4 separate regions of the Homo sapiens genome follow, and regions 2, 3 and 4 are each linked to region 1. Evidence: fine-mapped expression QTL. A gene starts in region 1. Each other region holds a variant in brackets. All regions are shown on one strand. Distances are between the middles of the regions. Region 1 holds the start of DYSF (dysferlin). Region 2 overlaps DYSF (dysferlin). Region 3 overlaps ZNF638 (zinc finger protein 638). Region 4 overlaps DYSF (dysferlin).

What was found.
Region 2: its variant is fine-mapped to the expression of DYSF in tibial nerve (GTEx, PIP 0.96).
Region 3: its variant is fine-mapped to the expression of DYSF in blood mononuclear cells (TOPMed, PIP above 0.99).
Region 4: its variant is fine-mapped to the expression of DYSF in whole blood (TOPMed, PIP above 0.99).

The regions. Positions count from the first base shown.
Region 1 is chr2:71,465,521-71,468,207 of GRCh38, reverse strand. DYSF (dysferlin) reads right to left here and starts at 1,509. Exons shown (of 56, transcript NM_001130987.2): 1 at 1,275-1,509. The coding sequence starts at 1,365.
Region 2 is chr2:71,502,867-71,505,553 of GRCh38, reverse strand. DYSF (dysferlin) reads right to left here. Exons shown (of 56, transcript NM_001130987.2): 4 at 2,235-2,340. Among named protein-coding and RNA genes, the nearest start is that of DYSF, 38 kb to the right of the region's middle. RefSeq lists a silencer at 1-55 and an enhancer at 1,748-2,247. The variant A/G (reference allele first, on the strand shown) is at 1,507.
Region 3 is chr2:71,371,824-71,374,510 of GRCh38, reverse strand. The region is part of intron 8 of ZNF638 (zinc finger protein 638); the gene reads right to left. Among named protein-coding and RNA genes, the nearest start is that of ZNF638, 41 kb to the right of the region's middle. The variant TAAA/A (reference allele first, on the strand shown) is at 1,212.
Region 4 is chr2:71,529,575-71,532,261 of GRCh38, reverse strand. The region is part of intron 14 of DYSF (dysferlin); the gene reads right to left. Among named protein-coding and RNA genes, the nearest start is that of DYSF, 64 kb to the right of the region's middle. The variant C/T (reference allele first, on the strand shown) is at 1,488.

The DNA.
Region 1 (2,687 bases):
CAATTTCTGCATAGCAAAGCCTTAGGCAGCATCAGGTGGACACTGGAGAAGGAAAGACTTTGTCTTGAAGTTGCTCTTGCATAGTGAACTCCCAGGCATGTCACCAATCAATGAAAATAGTGAAATTTTCTTAAACGTTTCAAATCACATCTTTCAAAAGAGGAATACATATAACTTGTCCCACAGCAAAGAATAAAAGCTACACATAAATCTCCCTTTGCCAAATCATGTCTTTCATCTATCATTATCTTGGGGGTGCTTGGAGATATGATTCAGATCATGGGTCAGACTGAAAAGAGTTCCCTTGGTGCCTGCACTGAAGGAGGCTTATGAAAACACCAGCTACTCTTCCTTCTTCATTTGACTATCTTTTCTGATACGTAGATTTTTATTATTATTATTATCGATTCCACAAAGCTACAGGGTATGGCTCCTGGCTAAGTGGAAACCCTCTTTCCTCTCCTGATTTATCTTTCTCTGCAGAACTGGGGTCCTGACTCACAGCTATTGTTCCTTCTCTTAATTTTGACAGATCCTTCCTCTTCCCTTTCCCCTCCTGAGACACCCGCTCCAGTGGGAATCTGCCTTGGAGGGGTTGGGGGAGGGGGTTCAGGACGCCTGGTGAGAAGAGGAGTGTGTGTGTGATTTCTCTGCTGCCCCACACAGAAATACCTGTATGTATTCTAAGCACTACATGTAGGGACTTAGCTTCTTGAATTTAGAGAAAATATCCTTGACATTCCTCAAAACTCCTTGTGTCAAGGCCATTTCCATCCTATTCTGTTCCTTTTCCTACTGATTAAGACGGGGCAGATTCAATACAGCCAATGTTGGATAAAGATGGGTGAATGAATGAATGAATGAATGAAAAAAGACACAACTTTCAAAGCACATCATCTACACGCCCCGTTTTTCAGAGGCCCTGATTCCTCTCTACCTTCTGCACCCATCTTCCAACTTACCCTTATCCCCACTACCCAGTAAAAGCTCGGACTTTATTTCCTCTGGGTGTCAGTCTTAGAAAAGTGATAACCGCTGACCTACGGCACTTTCGCTTTTCCAATTTTTCAAAGCCCTGTGGCATTTATTGTGCTCTGCTTATTCCTCATCGCCCCCCTGCAGAAGTCGGGGCTGGGATTTCCGTCCCTGCTGACAAAGGGAGAAACTGTGGCCTGGACTAGGGTTAGCTCCGGAGCAGGGGCTTCAGACCCGCCAGTGAGCGCCGAGAGTCGGGTAGCACCCGAGCATGGGCGCGGCAGCCACGGGGCTCTCACCTCGGAAAGTCAGGCTTGCGACAGGGTCGCTGCGCCGGTCCTTCTTCGCACTGGGGAGGTTGCTGGCCCTCACCAGCAGGCAGCACAGCATGGCTGGGCAGCCCCGGCGGCACACAGGCGCGCAGTCAGGGCGGGAGCGGGAGCACCGGGCCCGAGCACCCACCCAGCAAGCGCCCGGCTCCCAGGCAGCCGCGCCAAGAGAGCTGTCGCCTTCGCTGCTCCTCCGCGGAGAAGTGACCAATGCCTGGGAGAGGCTGCAGGGAGGACACCGGACACCCGCTGGGCGGACCCTCCCCCTCCGGCCCCTACCCAGATCCGCCCTGCCCGCGGCGGGCGGGGAGGGACAGGGGTCAGACGGGCGCCTGTGGGGGTGCTGGTCCCTAGCTCCGCGGGTCCCAGCTCCCGGCCAGGAACGAGGCGCCGCTGACGCGGGCGCGCAGCTCGGCCTCCGAGAGCGCACAAGGCGCCGTGGGGCCTGCTCCGCGGGGGCCTCCGGTGACCAAGGCTCCACACCAGCCAGGGATCCCGGGCCCGGTGCGCACCGGTGCCGACTTGGCAGCCGCCCTGTGCGCTCGACGAAAGGGTGAGAAGGAGGCAGGAGTGCAGGCGGAAGGAGTGGGCAATCAGCGGCGGGGACGAGAGTGTGTCTTCGGGGAAACCAAGTCTGAGTGAGCGCTGAAGGGGGAGTGTGCGGAGCGTGCCGTGCACCCCGAGCCCCCCGCCTCATTGCCTCTCGCCTCTCTCCACCTGCCCCATGATCTGCGCCAGGGAGCCGGTCCTCTCCCGTCCGCAGGCTGTCTAGGTGGCCGTTCTGGTTTGCTGGGACCCCCGGGTCGGGAGAGACTCCGAGGTTCGAGTCCCCACCAACCCTCCTCGGAGCCTTCTCCGCAGCGGTGTCGAGTCACTCATCTCTGGAGGCAGAGATCTGTATTCAAATCATACTGCGTTCCCTGGAGAACTAGGGTCCAGCTGCGGCCCATTCTGTCCCCTGCAAGTCCCCCATCCCCAACAATCTCTACACTCCCTAGTCTCCACAGTGGAAAGCTGTTCAAGGTGTAAGCCATGAACGGTGACAGTCGTTTCGCTTATTATGTCTGGTTCCTTTCCAGCGTATGAACTTCTTGACACAGGGGCCCTGGCTTCGCACTTCTATCCCCCAGCACTCCAGCACCTAGCCCCTGTCAGGGCACTGTCCGTCTTCCCACCGCCCAAGTCCTCACTAACCAACCTGCTCACTCAGCCTAAACGCACTGCTGCGCAAAATCTCAACTCCCTTTCCCCTCTCTTATTTTGAGGGATACAGCATTCTCACAGGGCTAAGCCATAACCCTGGCGAATCCAACTCCGCCTCCTCCACACCTGCCCCCAACCAGTGCTGTGTTGGAGAGTAACACAGCCGGCCTGAGTGGTGCC
Region 2 (2,687 bases), 37 kb before region 1:
AGGCAAACGGGGTCTGCAGTCAGCCTGCGGCAGGACTCCCGGCCTCCCCCACGCCTCTCAGTCTGCCAGAGTTTCCTAAGGATCCCACTGGCTCTGTGTTCACTCGTATCACCCCATCAGCAGGTTCTTTGGCCCTTAGAGGCAACTGAGAGCTACAATGAAATGGGGGCACCTGGCATGCTCTGCTGATTGGGCTTAGCTCAGAAATGAGGTCTCAGTGAGCGGCCAGCGAGAACCCTCAATGTTGTTGGCTGTCTGTCCCTGCCCAGCACACCCCCAGTTATCCCTGCCTCGCACTACAGTGCAGCCAGCCCAGGTCCCAGGCAGGAAGCCCCAGCCCAAAGGGACATATGACCTGTCTGGGGCTGCACTGTGACCTTAATGCCATCACATGGACTAGAATCTAGTCCTAGACCCTCTGTACAGGTGAGGACTGCCTCCTGGGCAACAGGGAGGAGGCTCCCCAACTCCATTTCCAGCCTGTGCTCAGCTAGTGGGGCTCAACCCAGCAGGGTCCAGCACTCTCTCCCATCCGCCACCTCCTGGATCTCACACACTCTTTTTGGAGACACGGTTGGTGAAGGATTGTAAAGCTCTGCAGACAGCCAGGAATCCCCAGCCAGGGAAGAGAAGGCAGCAGGCTCCCCGCTGGTAAACATGAAGCCCAGACAGTGTGGGAACAAGGAGCAGGAGGAGGCGAAGGGAGGTATGGAGGGGATGGCTCCAGCCTGACACGGCTCATGAATAGGGACCAGCTATGGAAAACTCTGCCTCGGGGCTGGACAGGCCTTTGAGGTTGGAAGGGACCGAAGGGCAGGAAACACCAGAGTCATGGATGCACACAGAGCTGGAGTGGAGAGATGCTGGTGTCCCAGCAAGGAAGTGAGAACCAAGCCTGACCCCAAGGCTTTCTCTCGCCAGCTGCCTTGATACCTATCATCCCTCCATCTGTGTCCCATGCCTTGAGGGTTGGGTCTGAGCCTCCTCAGGACCCCTGAAGGGGTAGTTCCAGAACTCCTTGGGGTCCTCCTTGACCACAGGGAGTGTTAAGAGACAGGAGGCTGAAACGGAGGATGAGAGGGGACTCAGGGTGATGGAGACAGGCTCAGTGAATACTGCTCTAAACCAGAACATTCTGCCAGTGAGCCCTGTGTGGGAAACAGATGGACTTTCCTGGGAAGTGACATCTTCCATCAAGGGAGCAGCCCAGCCATCCCCAGCCTAAGACCCCTTGGGAGCAAAGTCCAGCACCGAGAGGGCAGCAGACTGAGAGTTCAGTGAACCAGGAGTCCATCCACAGCCATTCCACCAGAGGGTCTAGGGGATGAGCTCCTGGTCCAGGCCCCCATGGGAACAGCCACTGACTATGTGACTTCAGTGGTTCCTTTTCTCTAGGTCTCAGCATCCAGTCTCGTTCCATTCAGAGATCTGCCCAGACCGGCTACTTCCTGACTCACCCAGCCAGCCAGGAGCCCCGGCCTCACACACCCGCCACGGGGCAGTACC[A/G]CTGCCCTGTCTGAGACAAGTCAGGGCCTGAATCCCCCAGGCCTCACAGGGCGGAAGTAGTTCCAATCCATGGTTCCTGGTACATCCTGGAAGGCGGGGCTAACCCACAGGAGAGGTCAGGAATTCTACCAAGAAGAGAGAACCCTACAGGGTATATTTAGCTCACTAAAAATAACAGGCAGAGAGGAGGGCTGGGAATTGTCTGATTGGACTTGGGGGGAGCACTGAGAAGGCCAGGGAGGGGCAGGAAGAACAACGGAGGAAAAGGAAGAGGGTCCTGGTGGGCAGGGGAGAGGGCTCTTTCCCTCCATCCCTCATGCCCTGTGACCCAGATGGTTCAGAGATTCTGAATCTGGAGAAGAGGGCTGGATGGTGAGGGAGGAGGGGAGGTCTGCCAGGGAGACTAGGTGGGCTATAGCCAAGGCTGACCAGGAAGCTGGGGACAGGAGGTGGCCAGACCGGCAGCACCAGACCAAGGGGCAGGCCAAGCTGCTGCGAGCCAAGGCTGACTTGAGCCCTGCAGGTGGGGTCAGGGCTCCCTCTGCCCTTCCCATCTCCCCTAGTCCAGTGCCCCTCCAGACACTGCAAACTCTGGTCAGGGAGGGCCAGGCCTGCTTCAAGGGAGCTGAAGTCAGATGCATGTCTGGGGTCAGAATGGCAAGGCCCAAAGAGGAAGCCACCTGGCAATGCCTTGGACCTTAACCTGGCAGAGGCTGATGGGCACTTACCCCTGTGGGCTGCTTCTTGGTGTCCAGCAGGGGGGCATTGAAGCTGGCGGACAGACTAGGGGTGGCGAGGACCTCTCGGAGTGGGACCTTGGCTTCCCCCAGGAACCTGAGAGGAGAGAGAAGTCAAATGTAGAAAACTAGCCTAAGGCACCCTGGCTCTTCTGCCAGACCCCTCACTGCCACCACTCAGATGAGGCTGGTCTGCCTAGACCACACAGTCACCCAGCACCCCACGAGGGCTCTCCTGCACCCCCACACCCAGTCACCACCATGCACCATCCCTGGAAGGCCTGGCCCCTAGGGAAATACTTGGGCATGGGAAGGGATAAGAGATACCTTTCCTTCTCCAAGGTCCACCTTGACCCCTTCCTGCCCCTCCCCAGAGGCCCAGCCACGCCTCCCCAGAGATGAAGGGTTGTCTTCCCATGAGCCCTTGACAGTCCACCAGGTCAG
Region 3 (2,687 bases), 94 kb after region 1:
AGTAAATGTTCAAGATTAAACAAAATGAATTTAAATAAAGAGGAAAAACATTAACCAAAATGAATAAACAAAGAAAAATAACTCTACAAGAAAGACAGGGAAATATTAGGAAGCTATAGTAATTGTTGTAACAGAAACCACATAGTATTGCCACAACAGAAGAGTATGAAACACATCTATGTATACAGAATTTATACACATAAAAGAAGCTTTTCAAATCAACAAGGATAAATTAGGCATAAATAGTGTTGAGGCTAACTGGCTCCCATTTTGGAAATAATACTGATTCCAATCCTATATTATGCTGCAAATAATAGATTAAGGAATAAAACCTTTTAGGCACTAGCACAGGCAAGTTCTTAAAAAGACAAAAGAAAAAAAAGCAGGCCAGAAACAGTGGCTCATGCCTGTAATCCCAACACTTCGGGAGGCCGAGGCAGGAGAATCACCTGAGCCCAGGAGTGTGAGATCACCTTGGGCAACAAAGTGAAACCTCATATCTACAAAAAATAAATTAAAACTTAGCTATGCGCGGTGGCTTGCACCTGTAGTCCCAGGTACTCAGGAGGCTGAGGTGGGAGGATTACTTGAGCCTGGGAGGCGGAGGTGGCAATGAGCCGAAATTGTGCCACCGCATTCCAGCCTGGGTGATAGAGTGAGACCTTGTCTCAAAAAGAGGGGAACATGTCCTCAGAACCTCCTGAGGCTGTGTCACAGGCATAAAAATAATAAAGAAAAAAATGCAGAAGCCATAGAATACCAATAAATTTGAGTACATAAAAACATCAAACTTGGCCGGGCGAGGTGGCTCACGCCTGTAATCCCAGCACTTTCAGAGGCCGAGGCGGACGGATCACGAGGTCAGGAGATCAAGACCATCCTGGCTAACATGGTGAAACCCCATCTCTGTTAGTGGCGAGCACCTGTAGTCCCAGGTACTCAGGAGGCTGAGGCAGGAGAATGACGTGAACCCGGGAGGTGGAGCTTGCAGTGAGGCGAGATGGTGCCACTGCACTCCAGCCTGGGCGACAGAGAGAGGCTCCGCCAAAAAAAAAAAAAAAAAAAAAAAAAAATTCAAACTTGATATATGTATGCATAACACAAGCAACAGACTGTAAGAAAAGACTTCTTACATACAATGCAAAATTAGTGTCTAGAATGCACAATATTCATGCACCTTCAAATGAATATTTTTAAAAAGACAACAATAA[TAAA/A]ATAGGAAAAGATACAGACAACTCACTTAAACAGTTAATAGATATAGCTAACAATTATATAAAAAGATGAAGTTAATGAATAATCAAAAAGATGCAAATTAAAACTAGATATCATTTTCTATATAACGAATTTTTAAAGCTGAAGAAATTAAGATGTTGTTGGTAATACTCTCATAAATTACCAGGGAGTAAATTATAACAGTTATTTAGTGAGCAATCTTATATTATCCATTACTGTGCATCCTATAAACCAACCATTCCATTGGGTAGGTATCACCTAAAAAACCACTATCATAAATGTCAAAAGATGGCCTGTGAAGGTACACAAGGTGTTAACTAAAGTTCTGTTTCTAGAAACAACCTAAATATCAATCAGTAAGGAATTGGTAATACATCTGTGGTATATTCATACAGAGAAACACTATAGAGAAGTTACAAAGAATGAGGAATGCACTAACATGGTTAGACTACCAAATCAAATTATTGAGAAATGTGTGTTATAGAACCTCTATAAAGTAGCCATTCCACAGCTAGTAGAAAAATTAAATTACTAGAACACATAGCTGGGTGGAGCAAAATGGTAGAATAGAACCCTACACTGTTCATCCCATCCCCAGCAGGAACACCAAATTTTAACGACTATCTGCACACAGAAAAGCATCATCACAAGAACCAAATATCAAGTGAGCATTCATACTACCTGGTTTTGACTTTGTATCACTGAAAGAGGCATTGACGAGGGTAGCAGAGACAGCCTTAAATCCCTGACAGCACACCTCCCTAATCTGGCCCCACAACATGGACAGAGTCTGTGCACTTTAGGAAGGGACAGCGCAGTAACTAGGGGACTTTACATTGAACTCAGTGCTGCTCTGTCACAGTGGACAGCAAAGCCATGCTGTACTCAGCCAGCACCCATGCACTGAAGGAGCCTTTGGACCAGACCTAGCCAAAGAGGACTCATCCATCCCGGCAATAAGAATCTGAATTTCTTGGCAAGTCTCACTACCATGGGCTAAAGTGCTCCAGGGTGCTAGGTAAACCTGAAAGGTAGTCTAGGACACAAGGACAACAACTCCTAGGCAACTCTTAGGGCTGGGGCTGGGATTAGAGCTAGTGGGCTGGGATGGCATGTAACCTAGGGAGGTACCAGCTGGGAAAACTGGATATCCATATGCATTAATGAACCTGAACCCTATCTCTCACCATATACAAAAATCAAATAAAAATAGATTAAAGACTTTTATCTAAGATCTCTAACTATGAAACTACTACAAGAAAACACTGGAGGAACTCTCTCTCCAGGACATCAGTCTGGGCAAATATTTCTTCAGTAATACCCCACAAACACAGGCAAATGCTGTACAAAAATGAACAAATGGGACCACTTCAAGTTAAAAAGCTTCTGCAGAGCAAAGGAAACAACAGACAACCCACAAAATGAGAGAAAATAATTGCAAACTATCCATCTGA
Region 4 (2,687 bases), 64 kb before region 1:
CAAAGATTCCTGTATGCTGATGTTTGTCACAATGTTGTTTATAAAAGAGGAAAATTTGAATTATATATGTCCAAAAAATAGGTCAAATGTTATGGTATACTCATCTGACAGAATATTATGCAGCCATCAAAAAAAATCATTTCAATGACTCTTTAATAACCTAAGAAAAGATGAGACAACACAAGCAGTTTACCAAACTGCATGTATATAGTTGATTCTCATTATTCATGGTAGTTATGATCTATAAGGTCACCATGAACCCTGAATTAGTGAATGCTGACTCATTACCTCAGAGAAGAAGCAGGGTTAAATTCCTGGCAGCCTCTGTCACAATGTTTTTGTCAACTGATCAATACGTAACCTTGGTTTATGTGTGCTTCTGTTGAAGGACACCTTACTTTTTAATATACATTGCTGAGTCATCAGCATTGAACTCACAGCCAACGGCACTGTGACTCAAGCCTGCCAGAAGCTTACCTATCACACGCACTTCCTCCATAAAACACATCACAGCCTTTCTGAGCTGAGGAACGCCAGACAGCACTTCAGCACGACATTTGGGGCCATTTTAAACAGCGAAGTCGCCAAGAAAAGGCACAAAAATGTGAAAAACATGAGACTACACAGGACACATATCAAAGGACACACATTTTGTCTGTGTCCTTTGATACGTGTCCTGTGCAGTACCATGTTTTGAGACTCTCTGCCTCCCTGTTTCAACTCTCGTGGAGTAAATACATGTCCTTTGATCATGGACATGTCATGTTTACTCCATGAGAGTTGGAGCGGGGAGGCAGAGAGTCACCTTGTTCAACCTCAGCAACCAACATACACGCTGGGAGACTCAAATTTTTCAAAGCCCTGAAAGTGTCCACAAATCATCACTAAAGTGCCATGAGTGTTGATTTTGGGCTTGCAAATACATTTTAGTGAGTAGGCAAATTGGCAAATACAGAATCCTTGAATAAGGAAAATCAATATTTTCATGATTTTTTCCCAGCAAGTGGGAAGAGGGGAGGTAACAGGGTAGGTAATACAAACCAATGTTATCAGTAATTCTCTCCAGGGTGGTGCAGGGTACAGAATATGGTGCAGTGGGAGTTTTTGTTGTTTTCCTTGTCTCTGATTTTTTTCAATTTTTTGCAATTAATGGGTTTTATTCTTGAATTCAGAAAAAAAAAAGTTGTTTTAAATCTTCCTGTCCTGCCCTACAAGTAGGGCAGGACCTTTTCTTTCTTCCATACCATGAAGTGCACAGTCGCACACACTCTCCCACACTCCTATCTTCTTAGGAACTTGGCCAAATCAAGTATGGTTCACATCTTGGATAATACTGCCACCAGGTGTCCATAAGGGGAAATGCAAAGAAGGCCAGCTGGGGTGGGTGGGTACACAGAATGTAACCTCAGGGCTCTTCAGCTTAGGGTGTAAAGAGAGAAAAGGGACATGCAAGCAGGCTAAAAGAGAGGGACAGGCAGAATGAGACA[C/T]GCCATAAGAGCAGCAGAAGCGGGGACGCCACAAGGAGGTGGCTTAGGGCAGAGAGGACGCAAAGGCCTGGGGTCCACCGAGGAGGCTGGCCAGGTTGAAACTTTCAAGACGGAGCATTCCAGCTGCCTCCTTCACCATAAGGTCATTCTTCAACTCCCTCCACCTCCTTCTAGAGGAAAAATGGGAGGCGCAGCTTCTTGCATGAGCCCAGATGCCAATCTACTGTATACAGTGCCTTGCCTTGGCTGCCTTTGTCCTTTCACCTCCCCCTAGACACTGGTACCTTCCTAAAGAAATCCCCAGGGCCAGCCAAGGGCATCTCAGAACAGAAGACCCAGGGAGATCAAAGATGCTGGCAGGGACCCAGGAGCAGCCCGGAGCCCCGGAGCTCTGAGGCTTAGTTCCAATGAATGTGAAGGCATGTCGGTCTTGGTTCTAGCCACCATCGAAATACCTTCCATGTTGGGAATGCGAAATAAGAACAATCTCAGGACGTGAATTCCCCCAAGTGTCAAGTGGAAGAATTAATCCTAGTCCTTGGAGCTAGTGTCCCACAAAAACGTACAGCCGCAGCTTCCTGTTTCCTTCCTACCTTCAAGCAGCTGTCCCCATTCCTCCTGATGCCAGGCGCAGGGCGTAAGACCTGGACCCTGAGTCTACACCAAAACCTGCACTCAGGTGAGGATCTGCAGTAAGCATTTACACCTCCACATGAACGAGTTTAAAATCTGCATTACATCCCCGTGTACATTTTCACTGGGACCCTGTGCTAGTCTCTGAGGAGAGAGAGCCCAGCTCAAAGGGGCTCCTGATGGCCACCTTCAGTATAATTCATACATCAACACAATAATGACTGATTTAACATTAGAAATAAAAAGTATTGAGGTCCATACTAATACTCAACGAAGCGGAGGGAGAAAGCTCTTCTTTACAGAAAAAAATGTTGGCTAATCAAGAGAAAAAGAATGATAATGAGAAAATCACCACTTTGCAGTCCCAACTAAATGACTTCTTCAGACAGGAAGGTCAATGGATGCTTAGACCATTAGATAAGAGGTAGCTGAGAAGTAGGACATCCGTACAGTGCCAAGATATCACCCACAGTTTACTTGCTAATTACAAAGTGGGAAGATTTATAAGGGAGCTGTCTGGAGGCACCATTTTAACTGTGTGATCAGGCGATCATCCCTAATGATGGG